Linked DNA regions of Homo sapiens. The protein of the gene in region 2 interacts with the protein of the main gene of each other region in a pairwise test. Each region holds a gene or a part of one and is shown on either strand. Other genes may lie near its edges. The genes, in order: SORBS1 and SEMA6A.

Region 1 (9,968 bases), on a different chromosome or scaffold from region 2:
TTGAGTCCCCCAACTCCATAAGTGGGCCAGGGAACGTGCAGCTAGGCCCTCAACAAGCTAGGCTTGTTCTCCAAGCAGGGTCTGGGGATTCTGGCAGAACAACTCACATTTTCATATTTCCTACATACCTCCTATGTACCAACAACTGTGATAGACACAGGAGATACAGAGGATGGCGACGTGATACTCACAAGGAGCCCTCGGTTTAGAAAAAGGGAGAGTCAAAATGTGCAGAGGACTTACTTTGTACAAGGCACTGAACTAAGCCAGGAGAAAGACATATAAACCAAACACAATCAACTCAGTGTGGCCCATGCCAAAACAAACATACATACAAAACACCACAGTGGCTGCCTTAGAAGAGACACGTAGAGAATCCTAGCACCGTGGCTTGCACACAGCAGGTGCTCAATGCAGAGAACTGAATCAAACCTTGACCAACATCTCATTTTAAGGCTGGGAAAACCAAGGCCCAGATAGGTTAAGGGACTTCTCAAAGTGACTCAGGTAGTTACTGACAGGGCTGAAGACAGCAACACTCTGTAACACTGTCTCCCTCCCAGTGCGTCTTATCCTCCACTGCATGGGGAGAATAGGCAGGATCTGCTGCCTATTATTATGTCTATCTCAGAATAAGCGACGGATTTATTTTTGCAACACTGTATGTTTGGGTGTCTTGAAATCTGATGACTAAATGTACGCATATCATCCTAGGAACGGGCTTTCAATCATTTAACAAACACTTCTTGAGAATATACTCTATATCAGGCACAAATTTAAGTGTGTGAATGAAGAAATGAAACAAACTTTTGGTCAAATCAGAGAGCTGAACACCCATGTTTATCTCTGCTCTCTTCTGGACTCCCACTAAAAGGACAGTAGACGGATGCATTTCTTAATGAAAAAAGAGACCCCAGCAGATGAGATATGTCAACAGCAGTGGAGAGCTGACCACCATGCAGTAGCTGATTTAGGTTTCCGCATTGTCTGCTCTGCTAAGTGCAAGCAGAGCAGGAGCCACTAAACAAGTGCCCAACTCATGGCACAGAACACAAAGACAGTTCAGGAAGTGGAGGCACCAAGGACTCTAAAGGGAAAAGCAGGGTAAAGCTAAAAAGAAGGGTGCCTGCCTGCAAGTTGGTACAAAGAGCAGTCAGACCCAGGGTCCCTCTTGCAGTCTGCTCAGCCTGGTGATTTCCCTGCCTCAGCTAGCAGAAGGTGGAGATCCACTGATCAGGTAACTTACACCAGAGATACAGCCAAGGGAGGGACACAGCTGAGGGAGGTAGAGAGATGGGAGAGAGGGATGGCAGGTGGGGGCAACTTTCAAAAGACCCAGGGATTGAGTGAAAGTCTGCATATCAAACAGACTAATACCTAGCCCCTTTCCCCATGGAGGCTCCCAGAATGCAGGAAGGCCAGGCTGTTTACCACCCCACCCCACCCTACCCCACACCCAGGTAAAATCCTCTCCAAGAAAGCCCTATCCAGGAAAGCCCCAGGAAAAAGATCTACCGGCGCTGATATCTAGGCTGCTCCAGTAGAGAAAAAGGGGGCTCTCTGCTGGGTCACTCTACAATGAAGTTAACGACTCCCTTCCTTGTGGCACTGATGCCCAATCAGCATTTCGGTGTCCATTCTTAAAATATACATAGACAGTCAAGGATCAGCATGCATGGAAGGATAGCTGCAATGGAAGATACAGTAACCAAAACAAATGGAAAAAGGGACTTGGAAGAAACAACATCTTCCAAGGGACAGCAGGGAACAGCAGAAAACCATAAAAAAAACAAAAACAAACAAACAAAACCCTTAATATAAAGGAATTTACTGTACCCATGAAACAAGAATAGAATGTCATCTAAAAAAGAAAAGCAAGTATTCAGAGAACTAGGGAGCTCTTACAAAGTAAAACATGCAAATATGTTCCACGTAAACACATGAAAGCACAGTTAAAAATGGAAAAGAGTTGAAGATAAAGCTGAAGATAGCTCTCTGAAAGACAAAAATATAATAAAATGAAAAAAGGAAATAAAATGTTTTAAAATTATAAACTTGCTCCAGGAAGTCCAACATTCAGCTAATAGGCATGCCAAAGACAAAACACAGAAAATGGAGAAAATGAAATTATTAAAATATATCTAATTAAGAAAATTTCCCCAAACTGAAAGACGTCAATCTTCAGATCAAAAAGGCACACACCGGCTGGACGCAGTGGCTCACACCCGTAATCCCAGCATTTTGGGAGCCCGTGGCGGGTGGATCACCTGAGGTCTGGAATTTGAGACCAGCCTGGCCAACGTGGTGAAACCCCCATCTCTACTAACAATGCAAAAATTAGCTGGGCGTGGTGGCATGCGCCTGTAATCCCAGATACTTGGGAGGCTAAGGCACGAGAATCGCTTGAACCCGGGAGGCGGAGGTTGCAGTGAGCCGAGATTGCACCACTGCACTCCAGCCTGGGCAACAGAGTGAGACTCCATCTCAAAAAAAAAAAAAAAAAAGGCCCACACCAAAGACCCAGGCCAATCATTTTTAAAGCAAGGAGATTTCAAATACAGGAAAAGAGAGAAGATCCCAAAAACTTTCAGTGAGAAATCAGGTTATCCATAAATGATCAAGAATCAGAATGGTATCCGAATTTTGATACCAATATTAGAACCTAGATGACAGTGGAATGATGGCTTCAAAATTCTAAGGGAAATGGCTTTCGACTTCAAATTCTAGATGAATCAAATCACCAATCGAATATGAATGTAGAATATGAACATTTTCAGACCTGTAAGCTTAAAGTGATCAACTTCCACAGACCCTCTCTCAGAAACTTGTGGAAGAATAAATCAACAAAGGAAACAGGATCCCACCCAGGATAAGGTGAGGGAATTCCCAGGATGAGTCATGCCACAGGCCTAGAGGTCAATGGGCAAGAACAAAGGAGACAGAATGGAGGCCTATAGGAGGGAAGTCTCCAAGCGGGCGTAAAAAAAAAAAAACAGTAATAAAATAAAAAGGAACAAGCGCAGGCACGGTGGCTCATGCCTGTAATCCTAGCACTTTGAGAAGTTGAGGAGGGAGGATTGTTTGAGGGCAGGAGTTAGAGACCAGCCTAGGCAATGTAGTGAAACCCCATCTCTACCAAAAAACTTTAAAAATTAGCTGGACATGGTGGTGCCTGTAGTCCTAGCTACTCAGGAGGCTGAGGCAGGAGGATCACTTGAGCCCAGGAGGTCAAGGCTGCAATGAGCTACAATCGCACCTCTGCACTCTAGCCTGGTGGACAGAGCAAGGCCCTATCTCAATAAATAAATAAATAAATAGGAACACATGTTATAAAACAAATGTCTTAAGATGCTGTCAAATACTTTGAGAATTAGCAATAAGTACATAGAAACTAAGTAAATAGAAAATGTAAGATAATTATTAACTCAAAAAATGTACAAGAAAGAAAATATTATAGTATACTATATGGCTCTGTCATGAACACTATTTACACAGCCAAAATAATGTAAGCACCAAATATCAATGTAATCAAAAACTGTGATATATCTATAATGAGAGGATAGGGAGAAAGGGAAGTATTGGGGGGCAGAGGAGAGGATCTAATCCATAGTAAGACATCAAGACATAACATCTAAAAGTAACCTCTAAGCTGGGCATGGTGACTCACACCTGTAATCCCAGAACTTTAGGAGGCCCAGGTAGGAGGAGTGCTTCAGGCCAGGAGTTAAAGTCCACCCTGGCCTCAAGCAGGGTCTCAACATAGCAAGACCCTGTCTCTACAAAAAGAAAAATAAGGAAAAATAAAAATAACATCTAAAATGGACAATCAGAAAACAGCATTGTAAGCAGGTAACAATAAATATGATAGTAATATCAGGAGAAACAGCTCAGTGCATTAGAAGTAACTGTTGTAAACAGAGTAACAGCAGCCCCTCAAGGATGTCTATATCCTAACTGCCATGCCTGGCTAATTCTTTGTATTTTTTGCAGAGATAAGGTTTTACTATGTTGGCCAGGCTGATCTTGAACTCCTGGCCTTAAGTGATCCGCCGGCCTCAGCCTCCCAAACTGCTACGATTACAGGAATGAGCCACTGCGCCCAGGCAGCCTTTATATTTTTCTAGTAGTATTGACTTTTTTTTTTTTTTTTTTTTGAGAGGGAGTCTGGCTCTGTTGCCCAGGCTGGAGTGCAGTGGCACAATCTCAGCTCGCTGCAACTTCCGCCTCCCTGGTTCAAGTGATTCTCCTGCCTCAGCCTCCAGATTAACTGGGATTACAGGCGCCCGCCACCGTGACTGGCTAATTTTTGTATTTTTTTAGTAGAGATGGGATTTTGCCATGTTGGCCAGGCTGGTCTCAAACTCCTGACCTCAGGTGATCCGCCCACCTCAGCCTCCCAAAGTGCTGGGATTACAGGCGTGAGCCACCACACCCAGCCTATTTGTCTTTCAAAACTCTGTGCGGGGTGGGGGTGCACAGTGGCTCAGGCCTGTAATCCCAGCACTTAGGGAGGCCAAGACAGGCAGATCACTTGAGGTCAGGAGTTCGAGACCAGCCTGGCCAACACTGTGAAACCCTGTCTCTACTAATAATAAAAAAATTAGCTGGGGGGGTGGTGGTCTCCTGTAGTCCCAGATACTAGGGAGGCTGAGGCAGGAGAATCGCTTGAACCCGGGAGGTAGAGGTTGCAGTGAGCTGAGATCATGCCACTGCACTCCAGCCTAAGCAACAGAGGGAGACTCTGTCTCAAAACAAACAAAAAAGAAACTCTCTGTGTACACACACACACACACACACACACACGCGAAAGTTTTATACAAATTAAAATTTAATTTAAAAAGAGAAGAAACACAGACTCACTCTATTCCCAGAACTCACAATATGGGGGAGGAAACAGACAAGGGAACCAGCAATATCAACAGAAGTAGAAAGCTGAACACAAGAAGAAAGGCATCTCTTTTTTTGTTTGTTTTTTTTTTTTTTGAGATGGAGTTTCGCTCTTGTTACCCAGGCTGGAGTGCAATGGCGTGATCTCGGCTCACTGCAACCTCTACCTTCCGGGTTCAAGTGACTCTCCTGCCTAAGCCTCCTGAGTAGCTGGGACTACAGGCATGCGCCACCACGCCCGGCTAATTTTTTGTACTTTTAGTAGAGAGGAGGTTTCACCATGTTGGCCAGGCTGGTCGCGAACTCCTGACCTCAGGTGATCCACCTGCCTCGGCCTCCCAAAGTGCTGGGATTACAGCTACCGCGCCCAGCTGAAAGGCATCTCTTTAAGATGTGAGGGGAGTCTGAGGGGAGAAGGCATCAGCCAGGAAACGCAGAAAAAGGCCTTCTGGTGAGGGAACCAGTCCTGGTGGGGGGTGCAGGGGGGCCTGGCCTTTGGGGACGTGGAGTAGGGAATGACCGGGCATCTGGTGGTTTGGCAGAGCCAGCAGGAAAGCATGGAGGGGTGGTTCTCAGCACCAGCAGGTTTGATGCCTACCCTATCCCCGGCTTCTCCAGTTGGGGTATGAGACTGATATGCATATTTACAGAGGGCTGGTACAAATGAGGGCCCACAATAAACACATTTTCGTAGAACGTCAATTGTATTCAACAGTAAAGCAACTTAAATACTTTTATACTAAAACCAGTACACATATATTACAGAGAATACAAACCTAATGTGACAAGGTGACTTCTTGTTTGCAAGGCCCACTTTAGATACTAAAGTACTTGCTGACCACTGAGCATCAAGAGTCAATCCTCTCTGTAACTAATTAGAGTCAGAAGAAAATCATAAAGCGGTACAGCATCCATCCATCAAAGAATCCGGGAACTTTACACCAGCAACTGTCGGTGGGTGCCCACCCTCCCAAGGTGGGCAGAAGACATACCTTGGGTCCCACTCAACACTAATCAGAAAGTTAACAAGCATCTCATTCTTTTCCAAAAGGGTCTGGGTCCTGCTACAGCCAGTTAGGTTAGCTCAGCCTGAGGAAACAGAGAAAACAACGATGCTAATTCTTCCTAGATATACTCTCTAGGCCATAGCCCGCCAGCCCCTATTCTAAGCAGTACCGCAGTCACTGAGAAGAGCCCCACCTCCACTATCAGCACCCCTAACCCCTTACAGTACAGGCCTCTGTTACAGAATGCATTAAAGACACTTTTTCCATGGAAGGAAGTCTAGAAACAGGGTACATCCCTTGAGAGAGGGTGTCCCTTGTGGTCCACAATACAAGGGTGGAAACTTTTTTCTATTGTTGTGAAAACAATAACCGCATGACAGAGACCTGGGAACTTTTTTTTCTATAAAAAGCCACTGCTGACCACAGAAGAAGTGGGGGGATAAATCAATGGAAGGCCACACAGAAGTAAAAAGCAATTTAGTTGGATTTGGTTCATTTGCCTCTTTTTTGTTTTGTGTGTAAAACACATACACATTCAAAAAAGACTGAATTCAACTGATTTTATTTATTTATTTATTTGGATGGAGTCTCACTCTGTCCCCCAGGCTGGAGTGCAGTGGTACAATCTCGGCTCACTGCAACCTCCACCTCCCAGGCTCAAGCAATTCTTTCTGCCTCAGCCTCCTGAGTAGCTGGGATTACAGGCACCCATCACCACACCCAGCTAATTTTTGTCTTTTTTTTTTTTTTTTTTTTTTGAGACGGAGTCTTGCTATGTCGCCCAGGCTGGGGTGCAGTGGCGCGATCTTGGCTCACTGCAAGCTCCGCCTCCCAGGTTCATGCCATTCTCCTGCCTCAGCTTCCCGAGTAGCTGGGACTACAGGTGCCTGCCACCACACCCGGCTAAATTTTTGTATTTTTAGTAGAGACGGGGTTTCACCATGTTGACCAGGCTGGTCTTGAACTCCTGACGTCAGGTGATCCACCTGCTTCAGCCTCCCAAAGTGCTCGGATAACAGGCATGAGCTACCTTGCCTGGCCCTCGACTGATTTGAAATGAAGAACAGAGAACATGAAATTTTAATGGCAATAGATTAAAAGAAACTACAAAGATATATTGTTGATAATAAAGAAAGAATGAGGGAGGAGGGCAAGGAGAAAGAGGTAAGAAAAAGAAATGGATAGTGGAGGGAGATGTAGCAAAAGAAGAATGGGAGACAGCAAGATTCAGGGACGGGTCCACATGCCTAACCGCACACAAAAAGGGGGAGCCACCAAAGGACCCACAGAGACACTTTCTAGGGCTTGAAGAGTTAGCCAAAGTCAGTTACATTGTTCATGGCCAGCTGTTGGCTGTAGCTCCAGACCTTGAACTATTATCACCTTTTATCCTTGCCTTTGAATGGTTAGTGCTCTGGTCAACCACTGTTCACAGCTCTTTAATTGCTCATTGAAACATTCTGAGGCTTAGCTTAGGTCACAAGCCAGAAGCTCCCCCAAATGAGCTACAATTCAGTAAATCATTCATCTCCAAGTATCTCCTCTGAAAAGGGAGTATTCGAAACACTATCTCATAAAACATTCAAAGCACCGATGAAAATCCAAGGAGAAAATGCTGCTTGCACTGAAACGAAATCCATGGAAAAGTGTTCTGAGTTTTGCATTTACAAAAAAACCGGGACTTCAGCAGAACTGAGTCCCACCTCAGCATCAGCCAGCATCACCACCCGCACACCTGACTTCCCACATGTCCACATTCTGCATGCTCCCGTGGATCTAAAGGCCTCAGTTGGTCCTGAAACTAAGCAGCCTCCATGACACTTTGCAATCTGAGGGTCAACAGGAGCAATCCCAAGGAGATTCCAAGACAGTCTCAGGCTGAGGTTGAACTCTCAGTCCACCCCCCCACCCCCCATCCTAGGCTACCAAACCTCCCCTCACTTCACCCCAAGGGCTGCAGAAGAGCTCAGCTGTTTCAGAGACAATAGAGCCTCCCCCTTTCAAGCTCCATCCTTTTCTCCTCCAAGCTTGGTTTCTGTGTTTTTCCCTTCCCCACATAATCTGTCCCCAGCCTCCTACTTTCTCGTCTGTTTCTCCAATCTCTCTCTTCTTGTGCTCCTATTTCCTCCTCATGTTTCGCTATTCCATCTTAGAATCATTTCTCTCAGAGGAAGAGGGGGCTTAACAGATACATATAGGCCGGGCACCGTGGCTCAAGCCTATAACCCCAGCATGCTGGAAGGCCAATGCAGGCGGATCGCTTGAGTCCAGGAGTTTGAGACCAGCCTGGGCAACACCGCAAAACTCTGTCTCTACAAAAAGTACAAAAATTAGCTGGGTGTGGTAGTGCGTGCCTGTGGTCCCAGCTACTCGGGAGGCTGAGGTAGGAGGACTGCCTGGGCCCAGGAGGTCGAGGCTGCAGTGAGCCATGATTGTGCCACTGCACTCCAGCCTGGGTGACAGGTGAGACCCTGTCTCAAAACAACCACCACCACCAAAAAACAAAAAAACCCAGATACATCTGGAAACAAGATCTACAATCTATCCCCCCGAGTTCCCACCCCAGCTCCACATCTTGCTAGCTGTGCAACCTTGGAAAAATGGCCAAACCTCCCAACCCCTCAAATTCCTCAGTTTGGCGGGGAAGGGGGAGGAACATGGCAATCACAGAGGTCTTTTATAACTCTCATCTTCTAGATAGGTAAACGTTCACCTGTGTAACCATGAATAAACCAGCAAGTTAAACATCCACAGGGAAAGAGAACAAATTACAGAAACTCCCTTTCCTCAGCAATCTATCATCCCACCCTCATCTCCCACAACCACTCACTCTGGGGTCTGTGCCTCTCACTCTGGACCGTTCTAGCTCTGAATTGTTTACATACTTACAGTAAAACCTCACAAATCACACTAATCAAGGAAAAGGTAGATGTGAATCCAACAGAAGCCTGCATCCTAGAATGCTTCTTCTATGCCATTGTGCAATACTTTGAATTTATTATCAATTTAGCAAACAGGAAAGAACCTGAAAATGCCATCACAAACTGTGACTCTAAGAACAGTGGAGTTGTCAGGAACCCTGGAAGACCTTCTGCCCTATCATCCTCCACTTCACCAGCAAGGACACAGGCCCAGAGAGCAGAAGCCACTAGCCCAAAGCCCAAAGATTGGTGGCCAGGACCAAAGCTAGCTGTCCTGCCTCTGGTCCAGAGCTTCTCCACCAAAGCTTTTTGAGACCATCCATGCCTTTCTCCTAGAGACAGGTCAAATCCTAAATTACCATAGAGTGCCCTCTACAGCAAATCTATCTCCACATCCAGGGAAGGGTCTGGAGATAAGTTAGGATGACCTGATCATTATCAATGCTGCACAATAAAAACTTTCTTTCCTGGCCCTGCCCTTTCATTGTTTACAAAGAAAACCCTAGACTCTGCTATCTGTATTGAACTCTTATTTTAGAGAAGGGGAAAGAGAGGAACAGCTGAACAGTGCTTTGTTCTGCCAGGAAGAATTTGCTCATCCTTTCCCATAACTCCTACCCACTCCCCAATATGCCCAATCTCTTCCGAAAAGTATACAGAAACTCTCCAACTACAACAAATGAAAGCAGGTAGGAGAAGGAAAAGGCCAACAAGGCGGGTATCGTCCACAAGATGACAATACCCTCCCAACTCTTTACCCCACAGGGTAGACAGCAGTTCATTTCAGTTGCTAATTCCCTGCAGGGAAGTCGCCAAAGGAGTGGTCTCAGGGCCCTCCAGCTGAGAAATGTGCTCTCTGCAACCCCTGGAGAACTAACCCTTTCCTAACCATCTGCTCCAACAGTGCCTTGGGCAAAGGTGCCAACAGACCAACCCTTCCCTTCTTTCCCCTCAGGCCAAGAAAGAGACATCAGAGCTTGGTTGGCAAGGGGCTATTTAAGGCAGCATCCAGAGGGCGGGGCAGAAAACTGCTGGAGGCATCCTCCTCCTCCACCCCTCCCCCTCACAGCCCAAACACACGCCCCTCACTCTGTAGACAGCCATCTGCCTCATCGGTGTCTGAAGGCTGTAGATATGTCCATCATCTGTCTTC
Region 2 (9,968 bases):
TGTTGTGTCTAACCCGACACCCAAGAGTAATCACAATCTTGTTATCATTTGAGAGAATGAACTCAATTCAACAAAATTCTTTTTAATGAAAAAAGCTTTGATCTTACTCCCACTGTTCTCCTCCATTCCATGTCTTTTGTTGTTGTTTAAACATCTAGCCTATGCGAATACTGTAAAATGAACAGAACCTATTTTCTTACCCTGCCAAATAATCAGGGGTCCATAATACTGAATTTACAAATGCACATTTTCTTTGCTTCTCAGAGATATCTGAGGGGAGGTGGAGAAGGGCTGGGAGATAATTGAAGCCTCTGGGTGAGCCAGACCACATGATCAAAAACTGCTGTGACACTTAAAGTGTTTCTCCACAAGAAATTCCGGTGCCTAGAAGCCCGGTGAAACCAGTAGCAATTAAGGCCATGTTATCCTTTTAATTTACTTCACATTATTGGCCTCTAAAATCAATCCTTTAATGTGGTTGGGTAACGGATGGGTCAACAAAATAGGCACGTGCATTAAAAATGCTTGTTGATCTTACACAAAAATGTTGGCAGGCTGGATCTGGAGAAATTTAAAACGCTGCCTTGAAGCTCATTCTGAAATAAAAACTAGTCATTTTCTAGTAAAAAGGAAAAAAATGACTGATTTTCTAGATTAGTCCCATTTGTAAGGAATTCAAAGTTTCTTCTTCTAAATCAGCCTAGATTTTCACTTATGCTTTGCATGTCTTGAATTCAACACTGTTTGCTTCCAGTGTGAGATTATTTTATGTTTTAATCTACAAAGGAATTAAATTGCTTGGCTTAGACTGGTAGGAGTCCTTGAAAGTCCACTTGAGAAATGGAAACTGAAACATGAAGTGTACCACTATCCGTTGCACAAGGCCAAATTTGCCAACCAGAAGCAAGCTGTGTTCTGCATCACACGTGAAGCACATAAATCGCCAGAATGTGTGTATGTGTATCACCCTCTTACAGCAATTTACTCCCCAAATCCTTTCTTGACCAAGTCACACAATATATACACCACTGGAGAACATTCTCTAATCAACTCTAAAGTCACAAACCTAAAAAAAAATAGCAAAATATTGAAATTATTAAATAATTGAAAAATGTTCATATACTATTCACGAGTTGACAAAGCAGTAGACCTACAGTCCAAAATGTATGAGCCTTTTGTTGCAAAATACAGTAAAATGGTCTCTAGCTCCTTAGCAATGAGTGTCAAGTGTAAAAAAGGAAAGGTTAAACCTGAAGTAAAGCTCTACATGTTTCCATTGCCAAAATAACACACGGCACACAGCAATCATGATGTCATTTTATTTATTTAGTAATCTGCAAAGCCAAAGCCAAATTATGGAGCAGAAATTTTAAGCAAAGTCATGAATGGCCTCATTTACCTCCACATTTGTGAATAGTCTTAATGAAGAGTTTGCGTCCCTTTGCTTTCTTGTTGAAATATGAAAGTGACATCAGCCTCTGTACTGTATTTTTATTTATTTATTTTTTTTGCCAGCAAGACTGAGCAAGAGGCAAATCCTGGATTAAATACCAGCTGGATGTGCACATAACAAGGTCCAGGGAGACACTCTCAGAAGTTGCCTCTTTTAATCCAACACTGAATTATACGAGAAGCGGTTTTCAGTCTTTCAGAGCACAACTGTCAAAATAACTGCAAGGCTTGCAAGCCCTAGTATATCTCAAACCTTTCCCAAGACACCCCAACACTATGTGAGGCACTGAAACTATGGCAACCGAATAAGAAAGCAGCCTCCATGATTAACAGATGAAGATCCCAGCGACAGTGTCTAGCTAGGGCCATCATTCATGATACAAGAAGAATTAGCACAGAATCCGTCTCGAAAACCATTAACAAGTATTCTTATAAAAATCAACTCCACTGCCATTCTGCCAATATACTTGAGTTTAGAATGCTACAAACAATTTGGTTTCTATTTATCGCTCACTATGCAGGAATGAGAATGTTCTTAGAAACTCAGATGCTCATGTTTTTAAAATAGTGAAAGGCTTAATAGAATGGTTTTCCACCTGGGTATTTTAGGCCTAAGAACAAATACATTGAAAAACCAAAATATGTGAATGAAATCAAGTGGCTCTCTGGGTAGAAAGGAGGAGGGACAGTTGTTGAATTGTTTTGAGTGTTTTTTTGTGGAATGCAATTTTTTGTAAAGCATTCCATTTTCAGGAAAGGAACGTTTCCATTCACCAGCTCAATCAGTATTCTCTCAGTTTCCTCATTCAAGGACAGTAGGAGTCTGGGGGAGGGGCGGGGAAGTGCTGAAGTCGCTGCAATATTAATGAAAAGACTGAATACTTTTCTTTAAAAAACGAATCAGGAATAGGAACAGGGAAAGAAGAATGGATCTATCACAGCTTGTCTGTAAAACCCTCATAGAACATTAAAACATAATTAATACAATCTTTATTTCTTCGTAGTCTCTAACAATGTTTATTTTCCAATGGCATGTTTTCATTGTATTTAATGCCAGATCCTGTTCTGTTCTATAAATGCTTCTAATCAAATCATGGCCAAAGGCTGGTCTTTGAAGCGTAGAGGGGCAGAAGGGCTAAGAAAGGCGTAAACAGCACCAACTTTAGAGCTTCTTCTGCTAAATTTTTTTAATTGGCATGGATTCTTTGAATTTAATGTTCTACAGATGACAATTATAGGTTAGTTGGAAATTCCTAGAAAGCACCTAGGAATATTAAAAGAAAGCTTCAAGTCTAAAGGCTGCATGAGGAAGTATCTATTACTAACAATGCTTTCTAAGCAAAAGTCACCATACTGGCTGCTAAGAAGGATCTGAAACTTCGGTCCTTGCAGCATGTTAATTACTGATTTATCTCACACTCTTTCCATTCTGTTTCCACTTACAGAGTTTGAGAACATTTTATTTCCTAGTTGAAAATAACTGTAACTCTAAGCCATGGAGGCATTCCTGGAAAACATAATGGTAGCAGGGAATTGTGGTGATAACATCAATTTATTTCCCCTTCTGCTGTGCCTTTTAGAAGTCAGATTTTTCTCACTGATAAGAACTTGTATGACTATCATTTGAATCAAATTTCAGGTTTTGTAGTAGTGTGTCTGTCAGCAGAATAACTGCTATCTCTACTGGGGTCAGCCAATTATTTCCTACCTTTGGTGTGGAAGGCAGTAGTTTGCTTTTGCTCCCAAATTGATTTCAAGCTTGGCCAGGGAAGAGTGACCTGGCAGATGCATGCCCAACCTGAAGACCCTCTTGCAGAAGTCCTAGCCACAACCTCCTCAAGGGTTCCAATCAGCAGCCGAGTTTCTCTCCTAAGACAGGTGTGGTCCTTGGGAATTCAACTCATCCCTAAAATTGTCATTATGAGTTGCTTTCAGATTCTAAATGTAGGTGCAGAGTGTACATTTTATTATTAAAATGTTAATAAGTGATAGCTATCATTTTTCAAAAACTATCCCTTGGGCTCCTATTTGATATAAGGCTCTGCTTGTTATTATTATTATTTTTTATATATAGTGGTTTTTTCCTTCCATGTTTTGGGTGTGATATTTCAAATTCCAAAGTTTCCCTGTTTCCTGTTTCCCTGCAAGTGATGTATTCACATGCTTCTCAACTTAAAACCCATGACATTATGGCCTGTTTATGGTATGAATGTTTGTTTCTAGTCCAAAGGTTGTTTTCTTTTGCATCATCTCTTTATATTACAGATTCGTAGCCATTTCCTTTTCTACTATTTCCCCTGCCCCCCAGAATAAAAGTACTATCTGCTTTTTCAAAATCCATTCCTAGGACATTTTTCGTAACTACTGTTACTCAAGTAAAAATAATACCTTATGTTGAATGACTGCTTGTTGTGTGCCCGGCATTGTGACATGCATTTTACAGATGTTAGCACATTTATTCTTCTCAAAACCATAACATTATCATCATACTAGCACTTTGCAAATGAAAACTGAAGGAGAAAGGAAACTGGCATAAAGTCACACTGTTGGTAAATGGCAAAACAAATCCACGTGCATTGTCTGTCAAAAAAGCATGACCTCCGCAATGCCTCTAGAGTTGTCCACTACCTTCCCTCCAACGGTCCCTTCACATTTATTAACCTCACGCCACAAGATCTAACGAATTCGGCCTTGTTATGACAAAGATGGAAACTTCTACTAGTCCTGGTTCACCCTGACATATTAATCGTTACACTGATTTGAACTATTTCAGAATTTAACTGAGCAAAAACAATTATCTTACTTTTAAACTAATTCCTGGCAGAATGGTACTCCTATGACCTTGCCTGATTTAATGATAATGTTGAAAGCAATGTTTCCTTGACATGGTAGGTGTTCTAATTAATAAAGTTGCTATCCATGCTCTAGGTGAACTGTACAATTTCAATGAATTTGAACATATTATTTAGTTGCATAATGTGATTTACATTAAAACTACATGAACAGTGTATATTCTACCAAAAATAATTTAGAAGATGAAGTAGGATCTCTGTTATATCCAGGGTCCAGAGTGGGAAAGAGGGGGTTAACATCAAACTTCCCAAATTTCCACAATGCGTGTAATATTTCACTAAATACATTCACATTCATGATTTCGTATTATTTTCCCAGTAATCCTATAAGTTAGGAAGAATAGGTTTACTATTTATAATTTTCAATTAAAATAATGCAGCCACAGAGAAGTTAAGTGACTTGTCCAAGGTAGTGAGAGTCTGGAACTCAGGTCTTCTTGTCTCCAAGTGCAGGATCCTCAACAGCAGATATACTGTACGGGTACAGGGCAGAAACATGGGTTAATAAAGTATGCTGTATTCTCCTGATAGAAAGTTGAATTTTAAAACTACTATTAGCAAACTCCAAAAAAACATGAACGTTCTATGGCCAGTGGTTAGAATGCAGAACAAATGAGGCCAGGGTCAAAAGCTCAATCCCCACAAATGCTGGCTGTCTTCTTAGCTCTGTTTCTTGGCAAGTTGATTTTACCTAACTCAGACTCCCTCCAGCTACAACCAGGTGTCTCACAGATGTGTGCTCTTGGACACAGGAGGGGACTGGGTGAGAATGTGGGAATGAACAGGCTCCAATCCATCACTACCACTGGAAAAACAACACAGTGAATGTTCCACTAATGATGCATGAGCCATACCACCTATGTGCTTGGAAGATTGTACACACACACACACACACACACACACATTCATGCATGAAGTACACACACACACATGCATGCATGAAGTATCTCATTTGATAAAAACATGATATAGAAAAACAAAGGCAGACAAAATAGATAAAATAAAGACTAGTTGTTTGCAAAAATGATTCACTGTTTATTCATTCAGCAAACACTTGTTATGGATGGCCCATGATGTGCCAGGCACAGCTTTAGGTGCCAGAGTGAATAAAGCCTAAAAATGTCTATCCTTATGGCATTATGTTCTAGTGGAAGACAGAAAATCAACAAGGACAACATATAGTTTGTCAGACTGTGAAAAATGCTAAGAAAAAAATAAGGACTGCCAAGAGGTGGGGAGTGCTGTGGGAAAGAGTAAAGTAAATAAGGGGATCAAAAGGCTTCACTGAGAAAGTGACATTTGAACAGAGACCTGAAGAATATGAGAAGCAAATCATGTAGCTATCTGGGGAAAGAACCATCCCAAGGCATGAAAGAGTAAGTCCTTGCAAAGGACCCCAAGTATATGCCATGCTTGACAGATTCAAGCAAGCCCAAGGGGTGGAGGTCAGAGAGGTTGGAACCTGAGTGCAGATCATGTGGGGCTGCAAAGGCCATAGGAAGGACTTTGGCTTTTATTGGAAGAAGATGGGAAAACATCTGAGCAAAGTAGTGATCTGATCTGGTTTAGTTTAAAAAAAAAATCACTGCTGTGTTTTGGCTGCTGTGTTGAGAAATGGGCAGAGGCAGGAATGCTAGTGGGGAAGCTGGCATGAAAACCTAGCAGGAGAGGACCATGGCTTGGCCAATTTGAGGGCCACAGAGGAGGAACACCTGAAGGAAGCCTGCAGGTATTCCAAAGGTGGAGCCAACAGCATTGCAGCCACAATGGATGTAGGTGTGACAGAGAAGCTTCAAGGAGAACTAAATTTGGGGGCCGGCAACTCAAAGAATGGAGTTGCCATTTACTATGATGGAGAAGACTATGAGAAAGGCAGATATGGGGGAGAAAGATACAGAATTAGGTTTTTTAAACCTAAGTTTGAGATGTCTATTCAGGAGGAGCTACCTACCCACTAAGCATTGGTTATTTGTGAGGTCCAGGAGAGAGGTCTAAGCTGAAGAGGTTATTTGGGAATCATCTGTGTATTATGGTTTTATATGATACCCTCTATTGGTGTAAATGGAATTATTGTAATAAAGTTTTGCAAGAGCTCATCTGTTTCACAAAGCAAGATACCCTTGTGTATAGACTATATGCAGTAGTCCCATGGTGAGAAGTTGTCCTGAACTCCTCCCCTTGAGGTTTGTGTGGTATGACATCTCATTTGCCCATTTCGAAGGGATTAAATGCCTCCCTCCTTTCTCTATCTTACCATATCCCCAAGAGGCAACCATGTGGTCGCCAGCAGAGAATAGCTCAGTTGCTCTTGCAGCACATTTTAAAGCAGATGAGAAAAGCCTTCACGCTGAAATAGAAATATCTCAGAGAAAACTTGGCTCCAAGGCACCCCAAGAGAGTGGGGGGGGTTCCTGATATGGGAGGGCCCAGCAGAACGCCTCAAGGCATCACCTTCCTCAACATGCACAAATGTGGCTGCCATAACACAAAGCTTCTATATAAATATGTCAAGGAGCACTCCTCTACTCTAGGAGGACAGAAAATTGTCTAAACCTAAAGAAGGGTGTGGAGAGGGGCAGTGCAGAGATAGGCTTTCCTAGGCATTGCCTTACACAAATGGCAGATGCTTAATTAAAGCATTTGCAATTAGCTTAGCTTGTTCTGTGATTCCTTCCTGCAAACAAATAAGATGGAGAGACTATATTAGCTCTTGGCAATCTAGTTCTAAAAAAACTTTCATCCCATCATCACTCTTTTGTCCTGTTCTGAAAAGCGCTGAACCACAATGTACACAGAATAAACTATCTGACTTAACTCCTGGTTCAAAATAGTATTTTTCCTTCCATTTCATATAGGAGTGCAACTACCCATTTACTTTTAAAGCATAACTACTTATTTTGAATTTAATACAAGTTCTTAATTTGGATGCCTCATTTTTATTTGGTGAAGATAACAGTCTTCCTAATTCTTGCTACACTTCTGATTCAACACATTAGACTTCACTAGTGCAATGTTACCCGCCTACTCAAAATACAACTGCTATATGTGTTTAATGTTGGAAAAAGCATTTACTAGATTTTGGAAGAACTTGAGGGGTGTGTGTTGTGTGTAAATAAAAAGGTGCACTTATTGCCGCCTTATCATAACCACTCACTTGAAGGCATATATTTTTTTTTTCACTGTAGGGAAAATAAAGAAGTCCACTTTAAGTGGACAAACATGAACCATGTGTGACTATTTATTTCATTCATTCGACATTTACTTGAGTGTTCTATACTGGTTCTTATAAAATTTTTACCTATTTAAGCTTAGTTGTTATGTCCAATAAGTATATTCAGCTGATGGCTCCTCAGAAATGATTTTCGGTATCTGCTTAACATTTACATATGTGGATTATATGCGTTATTGAAAATGTAGCACATCTCTAAAAGGTGATAGCTGCAAAACCTAACATATGGGGAAGGTTGTCACCCACAAACACTGTACATCAGAAACATAAAGTAGAATGCTTCTTTACATCAAGTTGAAAAATGACTCATAACCAAAAGTAAGATTTTAAATTTGATGTTCGTTCTTTTCTGCTTTAAACTGGTTTGCAAAGTGCCTCATTCAAGAACGTCCCAAAACCAAAATAATAACAGGGAGTAAGGGTTACTCAAGATTCAAATAAAAGTTACCATACAAACAAGCATGGGTAAACCAAATTCAAATAGCTAGTGCAATTATTTTTTAATAGATAGTTTAGGTTAATAGGTGGAGACATAGTTCTGCCACTGTATTTAAGGTTAGGTTAATAATTAACTTTGGTGCCTGGAGTAGTTTAATCAAAGCTTACTGTAAATCATAAAACTGCTCCATGTAGACTAAACACAGCATTAAAAAGTCATACAAAATTCTTGCAATCTTGACCGCTGGTAGCCATTTGGGTACGGTATAAAAAAGTGTAGAGTATTTTTAGTCAGAATTAAACATAGGCATCTTTACTTTGGGGAGAAAACATAATTAAATAATTAATTAAACCACCAGTCCTCCCCGCCATCACTGTAGCATACCACAGACTTGATGCCCAAGATGTGTCCACCAGGGGAAGGACGACGAACAATTTCAGGACTAAAGAAAGACAAGGCAAAGGCACTCGACCTTCCCATCCTGGCAAGACTTAAAAACCAGCGCTGGGGGGCATTAAATAGCTTTTCTGAGACCTGCTGGCACAACACTGCAAGTGGGTTAAACGGCTTTTCAGATCTGAGGTAAAGAAAGTTGTGCGTACAAGGGCGAGTGTGTGCGTGTGTGTGTCCATGCACGCCTGTGTTTTAAACCTTTCACAGATCGCATTCAGTAGCGTAAAAAAGCTGAGCGTAAAAAAAGGAGCGATCCCACTGTGGCTGTGCCTGGCCACCGCAGTTCCAAAGCAGCCACCTTTCTCCCAAAGACCGACGCGAAAAAGCCTGCAGGGCTCCCCAGTGCGATACAGGCCGGAGACTCCCTGGAAGTGCTTGCCCCGGCTGTGAAGACAGCGCCTCCAGTCTCCCATTCCTCTCCCGCTCCACGCACACCTGGCTCTGCTTCCTCCCTCCCTGGATAGCCACGCTGGGAAATCGTGCGCAGGGAGCAGATGGCTCGGGATTCTGCACCTGAAGCTGCCTACTTGCAAGCCACTGAGCCCCGGCCTGTGTCCACACGCACCTTCCCCACAGCCTCTGTCCACAGTGGCCGCACCTGCCTCCGGGGTCCTGCTTCCCCATTCATCCCTTCCCCGACTTGTCGAGCAAGTACCGCGGGCCAGGAGGTTCCACTCTCCAAAGGGCCGGGATCTAGCTCCTAGCTGCATCCCGAGCTGTCCGCATGATTCCCTCCAGGTCCGGCTTCCCTCAGACTGCACATGCTGAGCCCCAGTCCGGTCGTGCCTGCCGCCCCTGGCTTTCAGGGAAACTTTCCAGGAGCGCCTGGTCTAGTGACCCCGCCGCTGTAAAGTGGGAGGAGGCGCTGGGCGGAGGGGCGGCGAGGGAGCGGGAAAAACAGCGGAATTCTGTTTCCTTTCCCGACGTCCACAAGCCCGGGACCGCTCCCTGGCTCCCCCCGTGCCGCTCGGGTCTTGCGAGGAGGGAGGAGACCTCAGGATCCTGTTTTGCACCATCTCCCACAGCGAGGAGCTGAGCAAAACGCGGAGAATCGGGACAAGAGACACTTCCCGCCCCAGAAGGATCAGGCAGGGTGGGTGGGCACTGCCCGGCTTACTCTCCAGCGCCCCATTGCCCCCATGGTAGCGCCCTAGGACACAGTGAGGAGTCGGAACAGAGCCCTAGTCTGGGTTTCAAACCCAGGGCCATCTTCTGCCAGGTCTCTCACCCTTCCCCCTCCTGGGTCATCTTTCCAGAGCGAGACCGCGCTGATCTGGGAGGAGGGCGTACCGTGCGCCAGCCCGGTGCAAAGGGCTCGGTGCTTCAGGAGGGACGCAGCCGCGACGGGCTATATCCTTGCCGCTCGGGTTGGGAGCTGCGGCGGGGGACAGGACCCATGGCGGGGGCGCCGCGTCACCCGAACGGCTGCTCCCGGACACTTATTCGAGCAAACAAAGCCCGGAACCTCTGGTGGCAGCGGCCACAGGAGCCAGGATCTCACCGAGAGACAGGGCGCGCGGGTGCCTAGAGCCATTACAAGTTT

What was found.
Region 1: the proteins of SEMA6A (region 2) and SORBS1 interact in a two-hybrid assay, tested with the Homo sapiens proteins (one study listed by BioGRID and IntAct).

Annotation. Positions count from the first base shown.
Region 1 is NC_000010.11:95,549,916-95,559,883, forward strand, and holds part of SORBS1 (sorbin and SH3 domain-containing protein 1), read right to left. Parts: intron 1-9,968. UniProt on the Homo sapiens protein: Plays a role in tyrosine phosphorylation of CBL by linking CBL to the insulin receptor. Required for insulin-stimulated glucose transport. Involved in formation of actin stress fibers and focal adhesions.
Region 2 is NC_000005.10:116,563,641-116,573,608, forward strand, and holds part of SEMA6A (semaphorin-6A isoform 2 precursor), read right to left. Parts: intron 9,701-9,968; exon of another isoform or gene 9,081-9,700; intron 1-9,080. UniProt on the Homo sapiens protein: Cell surface receptor for PLXNA2 that plays an important role in cell-cell signaling. Required for normal granule cell migration in the developing cerebellum.